Linked DNA regions of Homo sapiens: region 2 is linked to region 1. The links come from fine-mapping of genetic effects on gene expression. A gene starts in region 1. The other region holds a variant in brackets. All regions are shown on one strand. Distances are from middle to middle. Region 1 holds the start of LINC03010 (long intergenic non-protein coding RNA 3010). Region 2 overlaps LINC03010 (long intergenic non-protein coding RNA 3010).

What was found.
Region 2: its variant is fine-mapped to the expression of LINC03010 in spinal cord (GTEx, PIP above 0.99). The same link has a PIP of 0.9 or more in amygdala, anterior cingulate cortex, caudate, hippocampus, hypothalamus and prefrontal cortex.

Annotation. Positions count from the first base shown.
Region 1 is chr7:155,376,690-155,387,023 of GRCh38, forward strand. LINC03010 (long intergenic non-protein coding RNA 3010) reads left to right here and starts at 5,387. Exons shown (of 3, transcript NR_147174.1): 1 at 5,387-5,626. RefSeq lists enhancers at 1,397-1,897, 4,633-5,444, 5,445-6,256.
Region 2 is chr7:155,397,176-155,407,509 of GRCh38, forward strand. It overlaps LINC03010 (long intergenic non-protein coding RNA 3010), which reads left to right. Exons shown (of 3, transcript NR_147174.1): 3 at 3,714-4,607. Among named protein-coding and RNA genes, the nearest start is that of LINC03010, 20 kb to the left of the region's middle. The variant G/T (reference allele first, on the strand shown) is at 5,889.

The sequences.
Region 1 (10,334 bases):
ACCTTGAAATTCTTTACAAAATTCCATATCTTATAAAGGACAACCATTAAGGGGACTTTGGTGTCAATATTTTCTGTAATGCAAGCCCTTTAATACTTTTCCACCACAACCTAAATTTGTCTGTAATCAAGCTACTGAGATAGGAATGCTGCATTCTCATTTTCCTCCTCCTATAAGCCTCTGTACCAAAACATTCAAAGGCCAGGCATTTACTTTTTATTTATACATATTAAAAATTTCTTCCAGGAGTGAAGTTTCCAAACACAACGTGTCTGGACAGGAAGCAAATGTTGTTTTAGGGGAAAGTTCTAATAACCCCATTTATGCAAGCACATTAGAGCAGAAAGAATCATTTCTGTTAGTTAACATTTTTGAGCCAGAAAATTAAAAACAAATATTTAACTTCCCAATTTGGAATTCAGGCTGGCATTGACGTCTAAACTTTGACAATGCATACTCAATGAATTAAACACAATCTCTACTAGCCAAATAAAACTGCCTTCATGTGGCTCAAAATAAGTTTGAATAAACTGAAAGATAAATAAAATGCACGGGGGACACCCAGGAAGAGAGCTGATGTGTGTGAGCTTGGCCAAAAGACGGCTTTTGGACTCTGCTCAACTCAGGGGTTTTATGACACCTAATAAAGCTATACTTAGAGAAGACAAATATTCAATAAATATGAGCACATACTTACAAACATATGTACTGTTTTCACTTTTCTTCTTCCAAACCTACTTTTACAGCAGTTTATTATTGGATATGAATTTCCCCTTCTCCATTTCTCATCACAAATTAGGTGGGCTCCTAAAGCGTCCCATTTCTCCCTTTAGATTTGGGGCCCCCCAGCTGATAAAGGAGTTGTGATTGCAGGTGGATTTGATCTGATTTCCCCTGAACAGGCTGGCGGTGGGAAGCAGGCATTGGAGTCCCACGGCTCACTGGACTGCAGCAGCGAGCCCTTCACGGTTGCAAAGGAAGGAAATTCCTAGCGGGGCAACTCTTCAGCGTCCGCCCCACAGACCTAGCACGATGTCCTTTTCTGTCTCAAGATACATCTGGCTGGGCTTCCCTAAAACCGGGCTTAGTTGGACTCCTTGGACCTGGGGATGAATTCTTGCCAACTATCTCCAAATATTTCCCCTACACCATGCCAGTGCAATTCATGTCTCCAAACCCCCTCTCCTCCACAAAAACGAAACAAAACAAAACCCCAGGTCCAGGAGCTCAGGCCCAGGCCGGATCCAAGACGCGGCAGCCAGGCAGCCCCGCCGCGAGCCTGTGCGGGCTTGAGCCGGCTTGGCCCCCGGAAGCCCCAGCCCCGCGCTCGGCAGCGTGCGCCCAGCGCCCAGAAGAAGCAGCTCCAGGCGGCCGCGCTCCCCGTCCCGCCGCGGTGCGGTCGGATGCCCAGCTCGCGTCCAGACCCGCGGGATGCAGACCCGGATCAGTCAGGCTTGAGGGCTGCTCCGCATAGACCAACGTCCGGGGAAGGCACACAGTGGCCGAGGGCCCGCGCGCTTGGGCTACGGCTGTGATGGTATCTGCGCTGCTTGCGCCTTGGGGATGGGAGGCCGCCTTTGCTGACTGAAGGGCCTGAAGAGGAGGCTTCTGGGGTCCCTGTAGCCTCACCCTGGATTCACAAAATCAAACACTATCTCCTTTCCCCTTCACCACCCCCACCCCACGAATACACATGGTGAAGAGAGGTTCACTTCTGTTCCTGTTGCTGAGTTTCAGCTATGCCCCTCGGCCTCGGAGGATGGCTCACCTTTACTGTGAATTTCTAGCTGAAAGAACAATGCTGAGAACAGGGATAACAAGAGGACCTCTCTAACAAATGCATCTGCTAGTTACAAAAGGGCTGGGAAGAACGGCTCAGGGACATTCCTCCCAGACCCAAGGAAAGGGAATGGAGACACATTTTGATGTTTTCTACATACTTGGTCAACTTGCAGCTACTATAGAACCCGCTCCCCACGGCCAGCTCTTCCTCCTGTTTTAGGGAGAATTTTGTTCAACATTCTACATTCTAGGGACCCTTCCTCATCAGATTAAGTGCAGAGTTACAGCAAAATAAGTCAGAGGAGAAGGATGGGGTAGAGATGGAGCGGAAGCTGGCGCTGGAGCCACTGTGTCCTGCCGGCTGCACCTGCACTCAATCTCAGGTACCATGCTGGACAGTGGGGAAAACAAAAACCTGGAGAACAGCCCAGAAAACTCCGCCAAGGTTTTATAGCTTAAAGATGGGGAGAGGAGGAGGCAGGAAGGGTTGGGCTCTGCAGGCCTTTAGAACGATCGGAGGTCTAATGAAAATAAATACCTTGTAAACATGTGGGTACCAAGTAACCAGAAGAGAGCTTAGACCAAGAAGGTCGGGGGGTCTTTTCCCACCTGTGAGAAAATAAGAGATCCTGGAGCTCTGCAGCCTTAGCAATGAACTGGATTACTGATTAGTGTTTAGAGGCACCCATGCATGAGTTGGCAAACCAAGCCATTGAAATGTGGAATCAGCAGGATCTGGCTTTTTGAATGTCCATTACTTCTCATGTACATGCATATCTATGTTAAATATGGAAAAGAAGAAAAAATTTAAAAGAGAAACAGAACCCTGCTTTACCAGATTAATCAAAATGGAATGATAGATTCTTGAGTTTGAAATAACCCCCGCCCCAGGAATTCTCCAGCGTCTCTGCAAGAAGCTCTCAGACAGACAGCAGTTAAACAAGGTCGGCAAAACCGACTCTCAGATTCAACAAACTGCTCTTTCTGTTTCTGCAACAGGAAGAAAACATTCCACGAGCTGATGGAAGCCCTCACAGACATACATCTGTTATGGCTTTCCCAGAATCCTGACCCCTGGACAATTCTTTTGGGAACACCCTTCTCTATCTAAGGAAAATGACATTCCTAAACCCTGCCCTGCCACCTCACATATGCAGAGTCTGAAAGGGAAGCCAAAACCCCTTGGTCATCCTCACTCTCAGCCCTCTGCCCAAAAGGGGGAACTTTGATCAAATGCAACTTTCTTCTCCTTTGGCCCCAAGCTTCTGTGCCCTCAGTTCACACTCACCCAGAATGCAAAAGCATTTGGATTCAGTGCTGTCCCCTCTGGCTTTCTGTCTGTCATTTGGCCTGGAAAGGACGGTCAGAAATGCCATGGACAGTTACAATTCGACTCAGTAACTTCCACATGGCTCATGAATGTCCTTGGCCACCCGGGAACTGCAGCCCTCTGCCCCCCAAGTTAATTGCTAAATGATTTGCAAACTTAAACAATTATACATTCTCTCTTGACTTGCCCCGAAGAAATCATGTTAATTTATGACACACTCACATGATCCTGATTAACAAACCTAGACTAAATTTGCATGTGGCAAAATGCAATACAGATATATATTTTAAAAAATAATATAAGCAGGTTTTTGCCAACTCTTTTCTCCCACGGTTTAATGACCTACCATCCTGGTTCATACGTTTTTTAACACCTGACTTTGGATATTTTTTTAAAATGAATCGATTTGTAGTCATTGCCTGGCTGCCTGTGGGGAAGGAGCTCCTGCCGTTGGCAGACACCTCTGCAGCCAGGCGTGGGGTGTCCTTCCATCAAAGCAACGCCAGGGGGCAAGAAGCGTTAACAAAGCCCGGGACGCTCCGCACTCTCCCTTTATCTACCCGTGTGTGCGTGTCACACTTTCCAGGGCGAAATGTCATTTTGCAAGGTTATACATTTCCAATTCCTCATAGAGCCTTATCGCTCATCATTTACCTCTTGGGCACAAACAAACAGCCTCTTTAAATAAAGCCAGGGAAGGGAAGCATATACCTTTGTACAATTAAAAATAGCACAAGAATGCCAAAATGTATTGGACCTTGCTGTTAATCCGACTTACCTGGCTGACACTCTGGCCTAATCCTATTTTCTCCTCGCATTAGAATGACTCTACAAGGCTACGTTTTGTTCTTCGGGAGCACAGTTTACCTGGCCAGTGGGCTGAGGATCAGAGAAGCCTCACCACCTAAGGTGGGGAGAGGGGCTGCAGACTGCCCAGCCTGGCCCCAGCCTGCTGGAGGTCCCAGTGCAGAGCCTGCTTGGCGAGACAGAAAGCAAACGAAATCACTCAAGGGAAACTTCGCTGGAGACAAAACACATTCAATTTCCTGAGGATTCTGCTTTCTCTCAGGAATTATTTGCTTTTGCCGAGGCACATTAAACAAATTAAACACTAAAAATGGAAGCTCCTTTGCTTCCTGGCTCAGAAAATAGTTTTTTTTTTAAAGGATATAGTACGAACAGTAATACAAATGAAAGAAAACAGTAACACTCTAGCTCTTTAAAATAAACTCATGTGGGCACCTAAAGTCCTTTTTGGCAAATTCTTATCTTGTGGGGCAGTGCAGACAATGGGAGCTTGTGCTAAACGGCTGCTGTCACTCTGCTGACATTCCAGGAAGCTTCCACGCAGCTACTTGGGCATCTTTTCACACCTTCACCTTCCAAACCGCAGTCCCTGGTGATCCTGACTTTTGCAGCCTGGCTCTGGGTCCACACGGGGCTGGAGAAGGGGATTCGGTCTGAATGGGTTCGTGGAGGGTGGGGCAGGGGGCTGAGCTGAGGAACGCGCTGGCGAGGGAGTCAGATACTGTTACTTCGTATTTTAGGAATGTATTTCTCCTGCACACCCCTCCCTCCCCTGCCCACCCCCCTCTCCCAGTATCATTGCTCTTTGAAATGTCATGAACTTGGCGCTTTCAGACCAAACCGCCGGGCTCAGGCCCGAGACAATGGGATTGTCAGAGGGCCAGCGCGGAGCTTTTTCTGCGTGTTCACGGAGCGTTAAGCCTTTATCCCACAGAACGGCTCTGTCTGACCGGGTCAGACAAAAGCCAACTTGCATCTTCCGCTCCGAGGGGATCTGGGCAGAGCCCGGGTACAGCCCTGCGCGGCCCCAGGGAGAGGGGGGAGAGGGCGCGTGTCCCCAGCCCTGCCAAGTGGCGTGGGGAGCGCGAGGCCCTCCTCGGTCAGAGCCACCAACTCTGGTCTCCGTGGACATCCCCCTTCCCCCGCCCGCTCCCGAGGCTCTAGGGCGGCCTCCTGGCCGCTGCCTTCTCGCACCCAGGGTCTTCGGCCTGGGCTCCACACCTCAGGCCCCTCAAGTAATCGGCCTCTTGGTGGCCGGGCACTGCCTTTCCGGCTGCTCTCTGCACCCGTCTGCCCCTCCGGCCTCCCCTGGCGGCTACAGGCGTCCGGGGCCCTCGCTCCCCAGCTCCAGGCGTCCCGGGAGCCAGGCGCGCAGCGGGGCGAGTTCTCGTGTCCGTGTGAGCGCGGGCGTGTGTATGCGTGCGCGTGCACGAGCGTGAGTGTGCGTGAGCGTGAGTTTGAGTGTGCATGCGGGTGTGAATGTGTACATGTACACGAATGTGAGTGTGAGTGTGCATGAGCGTGAGCGTGCGTGTGCGTGCGAGTGTGCACGAGCGTGACTGTGAGTGTGCGTGCGTGGAAGCGCGGCGGGGAGCCTGGCTGAAGGCCTGCTGCCTGCATGGCTGTCAGAGAAAAACAGAAGTGGGAGCCTGCTGCGGGCTCCGAGAGGACTTGATGGGAGCCCTGGCGCGCGCTGGGCACCGCGCGGTGAGTGTCGGGGGTGGGGGCCGCGGGTCTCCAGCAGCCCCTGCCCTGTGCGGACCGCCGCCCCGAGGGTCCCTGCTTGCGGGTCCGGGGCTGGGCGTGCCTGGCTCCCCCTTGCCCCCTGCTCCACCGGCAGGATTCAAGGGACGAGAGCTCTGGGCTGCGGAGAGTTGCCCTGGCTGGCCCCGTCCTGCAGCAAAGGGCGGGCGGCGCGAGTGGAGTGTGCGGGGCAGGCTGGGCGGCAGAGGGAGCCCAGGGGAGCCCATGGCATGGCACCGCCAGTGTGGGCTTATGAGGAGGTGCAGGCCGGGACCTCAGGCTGTGGGCAGGACCGCAGGCAGCGGCTGGCAGGCTCCAGGCAGGCTCTGGAGGACCCGGGATTTAGGTATTTATGCAGTGAGAAGGCAGGGGTTTGGGTGTTCTTTCTCCCCTCTTCCTCCTTGGAATTCAATTTCTTCGAAGGGCAGGGGGCAGGCCGGGAGGGAGGGACAGAGAAAGAGGCCGCGAGCCACAAATGCCGCCCCCCATCTGTTCAGTAGGGCTCACTTCCTGAGGCAGGGGTCCCTAGCACAGGGTCTGGGGAAGGCAAGGTGGGGGGTATAGGCTACCCAGATAAGGAGGGACTTGCTAGGTAGTGGCCCTGGGTCTTGAGGGGCTGGTTCCATCCCGATTGGTCCCCTGGTGCCTGGAGGGCTGTGGAGGGTCCCAGGCCTAGAGTTGGGGGCTGAGTGGGAGGACGGGCCTCACAACCTGGGATTTCTTTCCAGCTTCTGGGTCTGGATCTGGGCCTCCAGTCCCCAGCTGTGAAGCAGGAAGGGAGGGAGGGAGCCTTTCTGAGACCCTCCAGCCTCTACCCTGCAGGAAGAGGTGGATGTAACCTTGAGCATAACCTTGAGCAAGTCTTCCCAGCTTTTTAGGCCTCCACTTCCTCACCTGTAAAAGGAGCTGATGGGGGTAGACCATGTCGAATGTTACTTCTGGCTGAAACATTTTTTGTTGTGTTTTGTTTTAATTTGTGCAGAGTTGGACCTACTCTCTCATGGTGCAAATTTATTTCATTTCAGTTTCCGAGGCCAGGCATAGAATCCCTGTATATTCCCAGGGACAGTGACGCCTTATGCAGAGGATGGGCAACATAGAAAATAACCCTACCTGGGGGCACAGACAACTTATTCTTTAAAATGACCAAATGAAGCTAAATTGAAACAAAATTTTTTTTAAGTGAAATGAAACCAGTGATGCTGAGACTGAGTTGGCAGGCTGGGGAGGAAGACCTGGAAGCGTGTGTGGGCTCTCTGGGGAGTGCTCCTGGCTGGGTGCGGTCTCGGGTGGCCAGGCTGGGCAGAGGCGTTTCAGGATTTGATGGGAATCTTTGGCCTTGAGCTGTCTCCCCTACCTGCAAAGGCCAAGGCCTTCCCTCCACTGGCTGAAGTTGGTTGGGCTCTGCCCATCCATCCGAGCCTGCAAATTACTCACGGGGGGCTGCTAGTGCTGCCTGTGCAGGCTGGGGCCAGATGGGAACACTTTGTGGGGGCTGGCCAGCCTGGGACAGCAAGCAGCTGCTAGATTATTCCAACCCCTTTCTGTGTTCTTCACACCAGCAGGGGCTGGGGAGGCCGAGAGCCACAGCACAGCTTCAGAGAGGCCCCTTGGAGGTGTTCACAAACCCCCTGCTTCCCAGGAGGGGCACCCAGGTGTAGTTCCAGCCTAGCCTCTTTTCCCACGCCCGCCTTCTCTGGGGGGTGTCTCTGGGGGGTGTCTGGTCTGCGGAGCAGGGTCCAGACTTGCTTGTCTCCACGCTTCTCAACGCCTCCCCTCCACTGCCTCCTGCCTGGCTTCTCAGCAGCGGTGGGTGCTGGAGGTGGACTGGGTCATCTCCCCAGCCTCCCCAGCCTCCCCAGTCCTGCTCACCTGTTGGGGAATCACTGCCTGATTGTCACTTTACCCCTCTGCATCAGCTTCCCGGCATTGCCTTAGCGAAGTGCCACAAACCGGGGGGCCTACACAACAGGAATGTGTTCCCCCACAGGACCGGAGTCCAAAGTCCAGGCGTGGGCAGGGCCCTTCCCGCCCTGTTGGCCTCTGCTGTCTCCAGGAACGCTTGCTCCCTGGGCTCAGAGGTGCAGCATCCCAAAGCCACCTCTGCCTTCGCCATGTGGCTCTCACATGGTGCGCGTCTGCCCTTCCCATCCCGGCTCCTGAAGGAGAGCACTTGGAGAAAAGTGGGGATGCTCTATTGCTGCTCTCCCCACTGCTTGGTGTACCCCTGACGCCCTCCTGGGCCCTCACACCCTGGAGCACCCTGTCCCTGCACCCGCCCTGAACCAGAATCCAGGTCCAGCCAGGGCTGCAGCACAGCAGCACCAACGACGGGCGCATGGGGACAATAGCTGGAGGAGATTTGGGGCTCAGAAGAGAGGGGCTCCGGGGAACCCTCAATTGCTCATTTTGGCAGCATCTCCACTGGGTCTACATGCCAGGCAGCACACAGCCAGGACTTCAGGTTGTGTCCCCTGACTCGGAGTGGAGAAGGGGCAGGTGCTGGACCTGCAAACCTCAGACCCCACGCCTGGCTCCTGCTCTGTCTACGGTGTTTGGGAATTCACTTGGCCTCCAGGAATCGGCTTTCTCCTCTGTGAGATGGGAAGGCCATTCGGTATCCTAAGTACCCAATGGGCTGAAGATCAAACAAGATACAGGGTACGTGAGTTCTAAGAGCAAGGCTGAGTGTCACTGTTGGGGGCGGGGGTCCTTGCTCCCAGAGCTCCCAAGATGGTGGCGGGTGGCTTCCAAGATGGCAGCAAGCCTCTTGCTCTCTGACCTGGGGTTCTTGGCTTCACGGATTCCAAGGAATGAACCCTTGGGCCATGTGGTGAGTGTCATAGCTCTATTAGAAGCCGTGGGTCACAGAAGAGAACCGCGGAACCCAGCGACTAGTGTTCAGCTCGATTAGGATGAACCCGGGCACTTAGCCGTGCAGGAACAATGGTGAGCCTTTAGCCCGATCGGGAGCGGCAATGGGCGCCTCGCTGGATCAGAAGCGCAGTGGACACCCTGCTGGATCCGGAGGGATGGAAGTCGGCGGCGGGTCTGCGACGGCGGCAAACAGCAGTGGTGGACGGCGAGTGAAAGCTCAGCTCCAGCCATAACAAACACGGACCAGAAGAGTGGGCAGTTGCAAGATTTAATAGAGTGAAAACAGAGCTCCCATACAAACGGAGGGGACCCAAAGAGGGTAGCCATTGCCGGCTCGAATGCCTGGGTTTATATCCGGATCACTGTCCCTCCCGCTGTGCTCTCAGGCAATAGATGATTGGCTATTTCTTTACCTCCTGCTTTTGCCTAATTAGCATTTTGGTGAGCTCTCTTTACTACCTGATTGGTCGGTTGTGAGCTAAGTTGCAAGCCCCGTGTTTAGCGGTGGATGCGGTCACCTTCCCAGCTAGGCTTAGGGATTCTTAGTCAGCCTGGGAAATCCAGCTAGTCCTGTCTCTCACCACCTGGGAGCTTTGGCTCTTTGGGTGGTTCTAAACAGCATCAAGGTTGAGACCAATGTTATCTTTGGGGTCTCCACCCCCTGAAAACTGCCCCTACTTGCTAGTTCCTGCCAGGAAGACCCAGGTGATCAGCTTCCCTCAAAGCCCAGGGCAGAAGCACTCTGGTGGCCCCAGGTGCCTAGAGACAGGCAGAAGGGAGACACCCATGAGTCACTCCTCCACTTCTTCCAGAGACCATGCCGTTTTTTTCTTGTTTGTTTTTTGAAAGTGTCAAAAAGCCATGAGCACAAAGGCTCCCCTCTGCGCTGTGACTCTGGGAATCTGGAATAGAAACAGAAGCTCTCATCCCCAGGGACACCTTTCCTGGCACTGCTCCCCAGCCTCCTCCCAGCTCCAGGCTGAGAAGGGCGTCCCTCCTCCGTGTCCCTGCAGCAGCCAGCACCGAGGTCTGCCTCCACCCTAGCCACAGTGTGCTGCCATGTTGTGTTTCTGGGCCTGTCCCCAATGTCAAATCCTAGAGGCTAGGCCTCTTGTCTCTGTATCTCCAGGACAACAGGGTGTTTCACAGGCCTGCAGGCAGCAGGTGCTTAACAAACGGGTGTGAATGCAACCCTGGTCACCTCTCTGTCCATGGGGATGAGGAAGCTCTCCCCTTTGCCTGGAAGTTGTATTCCAAAAAGACATGACATAGGGTAGCATTGAATCAAAGCATCCTTCCCACCCTCAACTCCATAGACAGGGACAAGAAGAGAAGTCTTGTTGCAATGAGGAAGGAAGAGATGTAGGTTAAAATCCAGACAAGTTACCACTAACCCAGAACATTTAGGATTCCAGCTGTCATGTGCGGGGATCCAGATGCTGCCATCAGAGGGGTGGTGCTGCAGACGGAAAGCAGCTAGAACAACTGGCTGCGAGCCCCTCCCTCTGCAGCCCTGGGAGATGACTTCGGAAAGCCATCTCAATCCCTCAATCCCAAACCGCAGAGTGATGCCTCAGGCTGTGGGTAATTTCCCAAGGCCACGATCTCAGATAGGACCCCTTCGCCTCCCAAAGAGTTTGCTGGGCTTTCCCCAGTCTTGGGCGGACTTGGATGAGTGATCTTCCCTCCCTGCTAGAACCTTTGTGCTTGCAGTTCACATGAACTTGAGCGTGGATCTAATCATAGGGATGCAGGCCCGCAGCTGTGCAGACACAGATGCTGCATGAATGCATGC
Region 2 (10,334 bases), 20 kb after region 1:
TTAACATGGCACAGAATGTTACAAAACTCTTCCCAAGATATCAGTAATAATAGGTCATGTTGATGTGGCTCTTAAGATGGGCCAAGCTCTAGTGCAAAGAACTTTCTATGCATTAATGATTTAATCCTTTCAAAAACCCTATTGGGTGGGTAACAGTGTTTCCCTCCAAGTTGAGGAAACCGAGTGTTACAAGCTGAATTGTGTGTCCCTAAATGCTATGTGGAAGTCCTCACCCCAGAACCTCAGGGCGTGGCCTTATTCAGAAGCAGCGTCCTTGCTGATGGAATGAGTTAGGCTGAGGTCAGGCTGGAGTGGGCAGGGGCTACTCCAACATGACTGTGTCTTTCTGTGTCCGAATTGGTGGGTTATTGGTCTCACTGACTTCAAGAATGAAGCCGCGGACCCTCGCGGTGAGTGTTACAGTTCTTAAAGGCGGCGTGTCCGGAGTTTGTTCCTTCTGGTGGGTTTGTGGTCTCGCTGGCTCAGGAGTGAAGCTGCAGACCTTCGCGTGAGTGTTACAGCTCTTAAGGCAGAGCGTCTGGAGTTGTTCGTTCCTCCCGGTGGGCTCGTGGTCTCGCTGGCTTCAGGAGTGAAGCTGCAGACCTTCGTGGTGAGTGTTACAGCTCATAAAGGCAGTGTGGACCCAAAGAGTGAGCAGCAGCAAGATTTATTGCAAAGAGAGAAAGAACAAAGTTTCCACAGCCTGGAAGGGGACTGGAGCGGGTGGCAACTGCTGGCTCGGGCAGCCTGCCTTTATTCTCTTATCTGGCCCCACCCACATACTGCTGATTGGTAGAGCCGAGTGGTCTGTTTTGACAGGGCGCTGATTGGTGCGTTTACAATCCCTGAGATAGACACAAAGGTTCTCCGAGTTTCCACCAGACTCAGGAGCCCAGCTGGCTTCACCCAGTGGATCTCGCACTGGGGCTGCAGGTGGAGCTGCCTACCAGTCCCGCGCTGTGCGCCTGCACTCCTCAGCCCTTGGGTGGTCGATGGGACTGGGCGCCATGGAGCAGGGGGCAGTGTTCGTTGGGGAGGCTCGGGCTGCACAGGAGCCCACGGAGGCGGGGGGCGGGGGGCGGGGGGGGCGGGGAGGCAGGGGACGGGGGGTGCGGGGAGAGGTTCAGGCATGGCAGGCTGCAGGTCCCAAGCCCTGCCCTGCGGGAAGGCCGCTAAGGCTCGGCGAGAAATTGAGCACAGCAGCTGCTGGCCCAGGTGCTAAGCCCCTCACTGCCTGGGGCCGGTGGGGCTGGCCAGCCACTCCAAGTGCGGAGTCCGCCGAGCCCACGCCCACCCGGAAGTCACGCTGGCCCGCAAGCACCACGCGCAGCCCTGGTTCCCGCCCGCGCCTCTCCCTCCACACCTCCCGGCAAGCTGAGGGGGCCGGCTCCGGCCTTGGCCAGCCCAGGAAGGGGCTCCCACAGTGCAGCGGCGAGCTGAAGGGCTCCTCAAGTGCCGCCAAAGTGGGAGCCCAGGCAGAGGAGGCGCCGAGAGCGAGCGAGGGCTGTGAGGACTGCCAGCACTCTGTCACCTCTCACTTCTAAGACCAGAGGAGACACAGAGACACCTGGGGGAGACCAAGTGGAGACGGAGGCGGAGACGGGAGCAATTTATCCATAAGCCACGTGACGCCAAGAGTTACCAGTGGCACCAGCAGCTAAGAGAGGGCCTGGGACAGACCCTCCCTCGAAATCTCCAGAAGCAGCCAGGCCTGCTGACCCCTGGGTCTCTGCCGTCCAGCCTGCAGAGCTGTGGGAGGATACATTTCCACTGTTTTCAGCCCCCGGGTCTGTGGCACTTTGTGAAGGCTGCCCCCACAGAAGAAGACACTGAGTCTTCGAGAAGTTAGGAAGCCCTGAACCGTCCAAAGACACCAGGAGGGAAAAGGGTGGGAGGCGAGGGGCCAGCCCTCCATGTTCACGTGGCAAGCCGGAGCCAGGCTGGAGCTGAGGCCTCCACTCACCACCCAGGGTGCGCTCCGCTCACTGCCGCCCCCTGCAGGCTACCCCTGCCACCGAATCCCCCCACGTCATGGACTGCAGCCTCGCCAGCTGCCAGCCACACCCTTGCCACGTTCCTCCTCCTGTTCTCCAGCCCTGCCTCTGCTCCTGCTTCCCCTGCTGCGTGGAGACCCAGCACATCTCTTGAGCTGTGTGGCTTCTCTAAGGTGGCATCCGAGAGTTCCGCAGTTTTCCGAGAAGAGATAAACAGAACTTTTTCTCCATGACCAAGATGTCTTTCTCTCCACAACTCTGGTGTTCAATTCTTTTTATGCCAGGGAAACAGTCTCAATTTTACACTTCTACTTAACACCTGACAATTTTCCTGTAACTATTAGTGTTCAGTAGTAGTAACTATTAGGGTTCAGTAGTTGTAACTACTACTACGCAAGGAGGCGTTCTGGCGACCAGAAAAGGCTGAGGAAGGACAGGTGACAGGTGGGGCCACAAACCTCAAGGCAGGAGTGCGGGAGGAAGCACAGCACCTGGGACCACTGGCAGACCCGTCCCCTGCCTCGGAGATGCCTGTCCCTCCCGCTGAGATCACCGCCCGCCTGCCCTAGCACTGACGCACTGACCACGTTGCTGTCCTCAGGGCAACCTGTCTCCCTTCCCCTCTGACTGGCATCCCCCTGCAGACCTGGCCTTTGTGTGCCTAGAGCCGCACACAGTGCCTGACTGTGATAGATGCCAGCCAGGCTTGATCACGGCCACAAGCTCACACTCCGGGGCAGTCAGCCTGGCTCCAGCCCCAGCTCTGGTGCTTCTAGATAGCTGGTGAACCTCTGTGCGCCTCCGTCTCCTCGCTTACAGAGGTAATAGTGCTTGCCTCATTTGGGTGTTATGAGGATGAGGGGAAAAGGACCAACCCTGTGCGATGCTGGGATGTGGCCAGCACCCTGGAGGCAGCCCTAGAAAACTCCCTCCCACCAGCAGCCTAGAGTCCACAGCATTCCCACGGTGCCCGGGGCCGGGCTCCCCCGTCCCATTGCCCTGCCATCCTGGGGCATCACCCTCACCTGGGTGACTGAGGGGCAACAGCCCCACATCCGTGCTGCAGGTGGAGGGAGTGGGAAATGAGAGCGGATGGCAAGCAGCCTCCTCCATGAGGACGAGTCAAGAGGAGAGGGCGTCTCTGCACACCCCCCTGCCACCCCAGCTGCAGCCCCGCTGACACTCGTTGGCCAGGTTCCATTGCTGAAAGGAGTTAGGGGAGTCTGGACACCATGGGACAGTTGGCAGACTCAGCCCCAGGGTGTAAAACACAAAGCAGCTGTCATCTCGGGGCCAAGGTTTGCTTTGCGAAAGAAGCAGAGATGAAGGCCACGTGGAAGCCTCTGTTCGCTTCGTGCACACGATTCTGCACCCACAAACAGCCACGGTGCTAGGGGTTTCCACATGGTGTCCCCTTGACGCTCACAGAACTCCGGGGAGGCTGTGAGGTCACCCCATTTTCTGGATGAACCTCACAGTGGGAGAGGGATTTGTCACGGTCACACAGTCCAAGCATGTAAGAGAAGAGGTGCCTTCAGGACTGGCACCCAGGCGTCACTCCTGTCCCCCACTCCCTCTGCAGAAGCCCCTCAAGCCCACCGTGTGCCTGTTGACTTTCGCCCTGTGCAGCCTGCTCCAGCTCCTGGTGCTGTGCTGCGTGTACCATGCGTGCCCCTGTGGCAACGAGTCACCGACTCATCTCGTTTCCTTCCCGTGCAGATGCTTCGGGTAGCAGCCCAGCGCTCTTCACTGGACTGAAGGCACCTCTTCTCTTTAGAGAGAGAACATTTTCAAAGGTTAAGCCTAAAAATCAGGACAGATTTTACTTTGTTATTGTTGTTTCTTGAGGCCTAATTTTTAAAAAGCCTGTGTGCTGGCTGCTGATGGCCTTGATGAGAAAGTGGCCGTCAATTAAACAGACAAGGGGGAACCGAGGAATCCAGGTCAGCACGATTTCCTGATCTGTGGCAGTGACTGTGACCTGACTGGACTTGAGCTGGAACTTCAAATAACACCATTAGGTCCTAATCATATCAGAGGTGATCTAACATGACTTCCCACACCATCCCCTTTCAAAGATGCAAGTCACATGGGCACGTCTGTAAAATGCTGAAGGCTGCACCGTGTGAGCTGCACAAATTCAAAGTTTTCTGACTTTGCCAGCCCAGTAACACTGCCAGGTGCCAGCTTGTGGCATTTCTGTCAGAAACCCAGCTGGCATGAAAGTGGGTTTTTCATCCAGCCTGGAGTAGCCCCCTGCATTCAGAAATTCTTTGCCTGACTACAGAAGTCTAAATCAGGACTCACTTTCCCCCGAGCTAGAGGAGGAGGAATGTGAAGCCTTGGAAAGAGTCGGCACCATTCTGGGAGTCAGATTAGTACACCCCAAGAAAGGGAGAGTGGCTGGGCCAGCTGCGACACAGTCCCCAACCGCTACCCGTTCCTCCACCGCCCACCAAGCCCAGAGCAGCCTCCCTCAGCCAGAAGACAGCTTGGAGGATGGAAGACTGTTCAACTTGTGGCTTAAGCACATTATTAAAACCAAAGAGGAAAATTCTTTGAAGAGATGGGGTGGAGCTGAATTTAAGAGAAATAATAAAAACCATGACCAGGTTTTTCTGTGTCTGTTTTTCCTCCCTCATTTCTCCAGCAGCCTGGGGAGCACTGATAGAATAATTCCCCGGTGATTTCATCATGGAACTTCCCTTTCATCAACCTTCCACTGATCTACGTTGCCTGTGGAATAAAGTCCAAATGCCTTTGCTTGATTCTCCCTCTTCTTCCTCACCAAGCAAACGCCTTTTTAAACTAATAACGGTGGCCACCTGTGTAGAAAGCAGAAGGAATGAGGCAGGTGTGGGACAGGAAATGAGGTTGCTAAGGTATCAGTCAGCCACTGCTGTGACAAGGCTGCATAACAAATGGCCCCAACATGGAAATGGCTTCCTGCAGCAAACGTGTGTTTTTCTTGCTTTGGGGTCTCTGGGCAATGAGCAGCCCTGCGTCAGGCTGTTGGTCAAGTCTGTTCCACATGTTTCTGATTCTGGGATCAGTGGGGTCTGGGAACACTCTCCTGAGTGGATGGCAGAGATGCCAGAGAGCAAACCAGGCCGTGGATCATACTTAGTGTCTCTGCTTAGATGGGGTATTGTCACTTCTGTTCATGTTCCATTGGCAGCAGTCACCTGGCCAAGGCCAAGTCCCAGGGCAGGAATGTGTACTCCGTCCACCACAGCGGGGACCCTGCAGAACCCCATGGCACAGGTCAGACAGGCACCAATCTGTAACAGGCGGTGAAGAATTGAGAGCCATCTCTGGTTCACCACACATGCACTGTCTGAGTTTTTGGGGGCTGCCCTAGCAAATATTAATACCATGGGTGGCTTAAACAAGAGCTTTCCTTCCTCACAACTCTGGAGGCTGGAAGTCCAAGGCCAAGGTGTCAGCAGGGACTGGTTTCTCTCGACCTCCCCTCCCCCCGCCCCTGCCTTGGCTTGCAGTCAGCAGTCTCCTCACAGGGCATCCCTCTGTGTGTGTCTGTGTCCTAATCCCCCCTTCATATAAGCATACCAGCTATATTACACTAGGGCCTCCCATGTGACCTCATTTAACCTTCATGACCTCTGTGAAGACCCCAGCTTCACATACAGTCACATTCTGAGGTCCCAGGGATCAGGATCCAGCATATGAATTCAGGGGATTCAGCCCACAGCACACACCTTCTTATGTGCTTCCCCTAACCTGTAACATGGCAGGTTATGTGCATAATAGAAGGAAGAGCGGGTCCAGGTGCACAGACTTTCTCTGTTGGGGGCTTGCAACCCATGATGCAATCATGTGGATGCCCAGAAGACCACTAGGACATCCCATTGATCTTCATCATAAGAAATACAA[G/T]AGCAGTGCTGTCTCTGGTCGTGCCCACAGAGAAGGGAGTAAATAGTGAGGATTTTGTAGCCATGGGAACAAGAGGTCCTTCCAGAAGAAATGACCTCTTTGTTCTGGACCTCCAAGGGAGAGCAAGGGTGTTAGGAGCAGGGAGGGGAGGATACTTTGACTGAAAGTCTTTGCGGTGTTGGGGTGTCGTGCGCCTGGCATGGTGGGTGAGGAGGGAGCCGGGCAGAGGGCCTGGAGGGCAGAGAGCATCCCAGGAGGCCATGTTCTTTGGAGGGATTGGGGGCACAGCAGAGAAATGCAAGATTTCACTGGTCACCACGCTGCAACCAGGAGCAGATCTCGGAGAGAGAAAAGTAAGCCCAAATGGCCTCGCACAGGGTTAGAGACCAGGACCAGTACAGGACCCTCCAGGACACTGACAGGACCTGGCATGCAGGCTGGGACCGCTGTCCAATGAAGCTGCCAGGGTTCAAGCCCAAAGCCTCTCCCAGAGACAGAAGTGACCCAGGAGCCAGGGCAGGAGTCCGCAGATGCTGTTGTGCGCCTGGCGGGAGCCGTGGGTGAGCCCAGCAGGGAGGGCTGGCAGCAGACTCTCACTGGCAGCCACTTGGGCCTCTGGCTCCAGGAAGAGATGGGTTTTTGAGTCTTCAGATTAAAGGGCTTTACTCCCAGGGGCTGCGGAGGCTGGACAGAGGGGCTAAGTGGTGGGGACCCAGTAGATCTGTGACAAAGTGTCAGCCTGTGCTGCTGGCATGGGAACAAGGATGAGACCCAGGATTCCTGGCCCCACTGCAGCCTCCCATACCTCTCACCTGGTTTCCCAGGCTCCCCTTGGCCCCAAACCCACCTCACCCACCTCACCCTCATCACACCTGTCAGCTCCAGCCCCTTTCCTGAGCTACCCCATGCCAGGAGCTGGGGCTGAGACTCCCACTGAACCTTAGCTATGGGACCAGGCCAGGTGGCCAGATTCACAGCCCCCCAGTTCTAACAGCCTCTGCGAGTCAGGTGGATTTGATGGGGGGTGGGGGTTGAGCCTGGGAGGAAGCTCAGTCCATGCAGGCAGCCCCCAGCCACTGCCCACCCACCCCTCAGTGGCCCCCTCTCTACTGCGGGGATCCCTGGGGGAGCCCCTTCCTAGGGGCAGGTGCCCTCCTGAGCCTCGGTCACCAGCACCTCCCAGAAGGAAACAAAGGGGTGGGGAGCAGCCTAGGGCTCTGGCCTCGCTGCTGGAGGTGGCTGGAGGGACAGCCACCTCCAGGCACCAGGCAGGGGTCTGGCAGCTAGGGAGTGACAGCGCAGACCTGCTTATTTGCATGCCATATACTGCAGGAGACCTGCCACCGCCAACCCAGGAACAGAGAGGGAGAGACCCGCTCTGGTTTGAAGATGTCAGCACACAGCGGATCAAAAGTTTAGCCTGGAGGCTGCTGTCAGCCACTCAGACGCATAACTTTATACGGTTCCAGAGACGTGTGGTGCAGGAACTATGATGGGGAGACGACAGCAGGAGGAGGGCCATGGGGTGGGGAAGTTGGAGGTGGGCAGCCCCTGCTGGGGCTGGGGATTGGGCTGGTGCAGCCCCAGGCTGGAGGTGGGTGACTCCACCCTTTTATTTTCTGGGGCCTGCAGGTTCGGGTCCCTCAGCCCGGGCAGCAGCGTGGCCTCCACACCACGGGCCCCCCAGCGGGGCCCATCTTCCTGAGAGGTGGGGCGCCTGAGGGACTGCACCAGCATCCCCTTCAAAGCCTTCCCTGTCCCTTTTTTGCCCTCTCCCCAGAACAGCTCCCCCAGGGCGGCTGCTCTCTTCTCCACTGGGCAGGGGAGGAAGCAGGCCCAGCACTCGCCCAGGGAGGTGCCAGGACCAGAGCCCATCCCGGGAGGTGCTGCCACCTGGTCCCGTCCCCACTCACGCTGTGGAGAGGGCTCCTGTGGGTCAGAAGTCAGTTGGCACAGGCCCCCGCCTTCATCCCCAAGTGGTACCCATCATCGTTACATGGCACCTGTGGCCCCACCACCGGGTCAAGGGCTGAGCTCAGGGCCAGCATTCCCGTCTCCCCGTCTGGTGCCTGCCCAGGCCTGCTTGTGGTCTTGTGAGGAGGTGGCTCTGCAGGCTGCGGCCCTGGAAGGGGGATTCAAGCCCACCCGACTTGCTGAGGCAGCATAGGTGAGCGTCCTGCGCCTGGGGTCACCTGCCCCGCTGCCCCGGCCCCAGCACCACCGCCCGGAGGAATTTGTGGGTGTCAGTTCCCTGCTTCTCTCCTATCAGGAAACAGCTGCTTGAAATATTTTTTAAAGGAAAATATGAAGAATCAATTAGAAAGAGAATATCAAACAAGATTTTCTTGTTTAAAAAAATGACAAAATCCCTCCATATTTAAACTGAGTTCGAGAGAACCGTCCTGGTGTCTTTCTGCCTTTTCTGTGCTGCTGGCTTGGAAGCCTGACAGCAATTCTCCCAGTTTCTGAAATCTTTTTTTCACAGTCCACGGGGTGGTGTTTGCGAGACACACAGCAGAGGGCAGAGCTAGAAGGGGAGACGCAGCCGGTCCCTGGGAGAGCCACAGGCTGCCCCCGAACCCTCCACCTGTGTGCTGAGGCACGGTCCCCTCGGCTCGCCCAGTACGACTCGACTGGTTACAGGACCCCAGACTCAGTCCTCGCCCCAGTCACCCCTGCTCAGAGGTGCCAGTGGCTCTGGGCCTCTGCCTTCCTCCAGAGCCCCTTGGCTCAAAAAACCCTCAGCATCTCCCGCCCACAGCCTGTGGGGGCCTGTGCTACCCGGGCAGGGTGGGAACTGCCAGCAGCTCCTGGCCTCCCAGCAGCTCCTTCCTCCTGACACATTCCCCGTCCGGTTGGACCGTCTCCAGGAGTCCACACTCCAGCTCAGCCGGGCCATGCGGATCCCCTCACCGGAGCGTTCTTTAAGGACCAGGGCTGCCGAGCAGGTGATGGGCAGAAGGCCCCACCTCCCCACTGTGAGCCGTGTGTCTTGTGTGACCTTTCTGAGCCTTCGTGTCCTCATCTAGGTGGTGGCATTCGTGAAGCCCACAGGACGCCCCAGCAGGAAGCGGCTGTGGTTCTTGTCACCCCCACCATGGCTGCTGCCTGGCCCCACTTCAACCATGCCCGCCCCTCCGCTCGGCTGCACACAGTTTTGCTCCTCATTACAGGCTTCTCCACAGGTTTTCCTCCTGAACCATGTGGATTCTTCTTGTCTTCCCAAATCCACCAACCTCTCTGAGGGCAGGGATCAGGCATTCTTCTCAGTGTTTACTTGTGAAAGCATCTAGCAGAACTGGGGGCCTACAGACCACCTCAGAAATGGTTTGAAAGCAGAAAGTGCTACCATATGCAGTTGAAATTCCCAGGCAATTATGCATGTAAAAATTCCTGGTTGTATACATGGAACATCAAAGATCAGAAGGAAAGAATCAAATGCCTGACTGTGCTATGATAGCGCCATTTCCTTTAACTCGTTTCACAAACGCAGATAGAGCGCTTACCCCGAACCAGGCATGTTGCTGCGTGATTGATAAATATTAACTAAATTAATCTTTGAAACCACCCCATGAGGTGGGTATTATTGTTGTCACCCTTTCAAAAATGTGGAAACCGGGGTGGGGAGATGTTAAGACGCTCAGTCAAGGTCACACAGCTCACCCGCGGTAGAGCTGGGGTTCAAATGCAAGTGGTCTCGGTCCAGTGTTTACGGCTTTAAGGTGTGTTGGCTCCAGGGATGAGTCTTCATTTCTTCTGGGGGCTGCGGTTATGAAGAGACCGGCCCCAGACCCAGAGCCAATGCCGCCAGGCACTTTCTGAGAGGAGCAGCGGCGGTGTGAGAGTGTGGAGTGTGAGAGTGTGGGGTGTGAGAGTGTGGGGTGTGAGAGTGTGGGGGTGTGGGAGTGTGGGGTGTGAGAGTGTGGGGTGTGGGAGTGTGGGGTGTGAGAGTGTGGACTGTGAGAGTGTGGGGTGTGAGAGTGTGGGCTGTGGGAGTGTGGGGTGTGGGAGTGTGGGGTGTGGGAGTGTGGGGTGTGGGAGTGTGGGGTGTGGGAGTGTGGGCTGTGGGAGTGTGGGGTGTGGGGTGTGGAGTGTGGGGTGTGGAGTGCGGGGTGTGGAGTGTGGGGTGTGGGAGTGTGCGGTGTGGGAGTGTGGGGTGTGAGAGTGTGGGGTGTGGGAGTGTGGGCTGTGGGAGTGTGGGGTGTGGGGTGTGGAGTGTGGGGTGTGGAGTGCGGGGTGTGGAGTGCGGGGTGTGAGAGTGTGGGGTGTGAGAGTGTGGGGTGTGAGAGTGTGGGGTGTGGGAGTTTGAGGTGTGCGTGTGTCGGGTGTGGGAGTATGGGGTGTGGGATGTGAGAGTGTGGGGTGTGAGAGTGTGGGGTGTGGGAGTTTGAGGTGTGCGTGTGTCGGGTGTGGGAGTATGGGGTGTGGGATGTGAGAGTGTGGGGT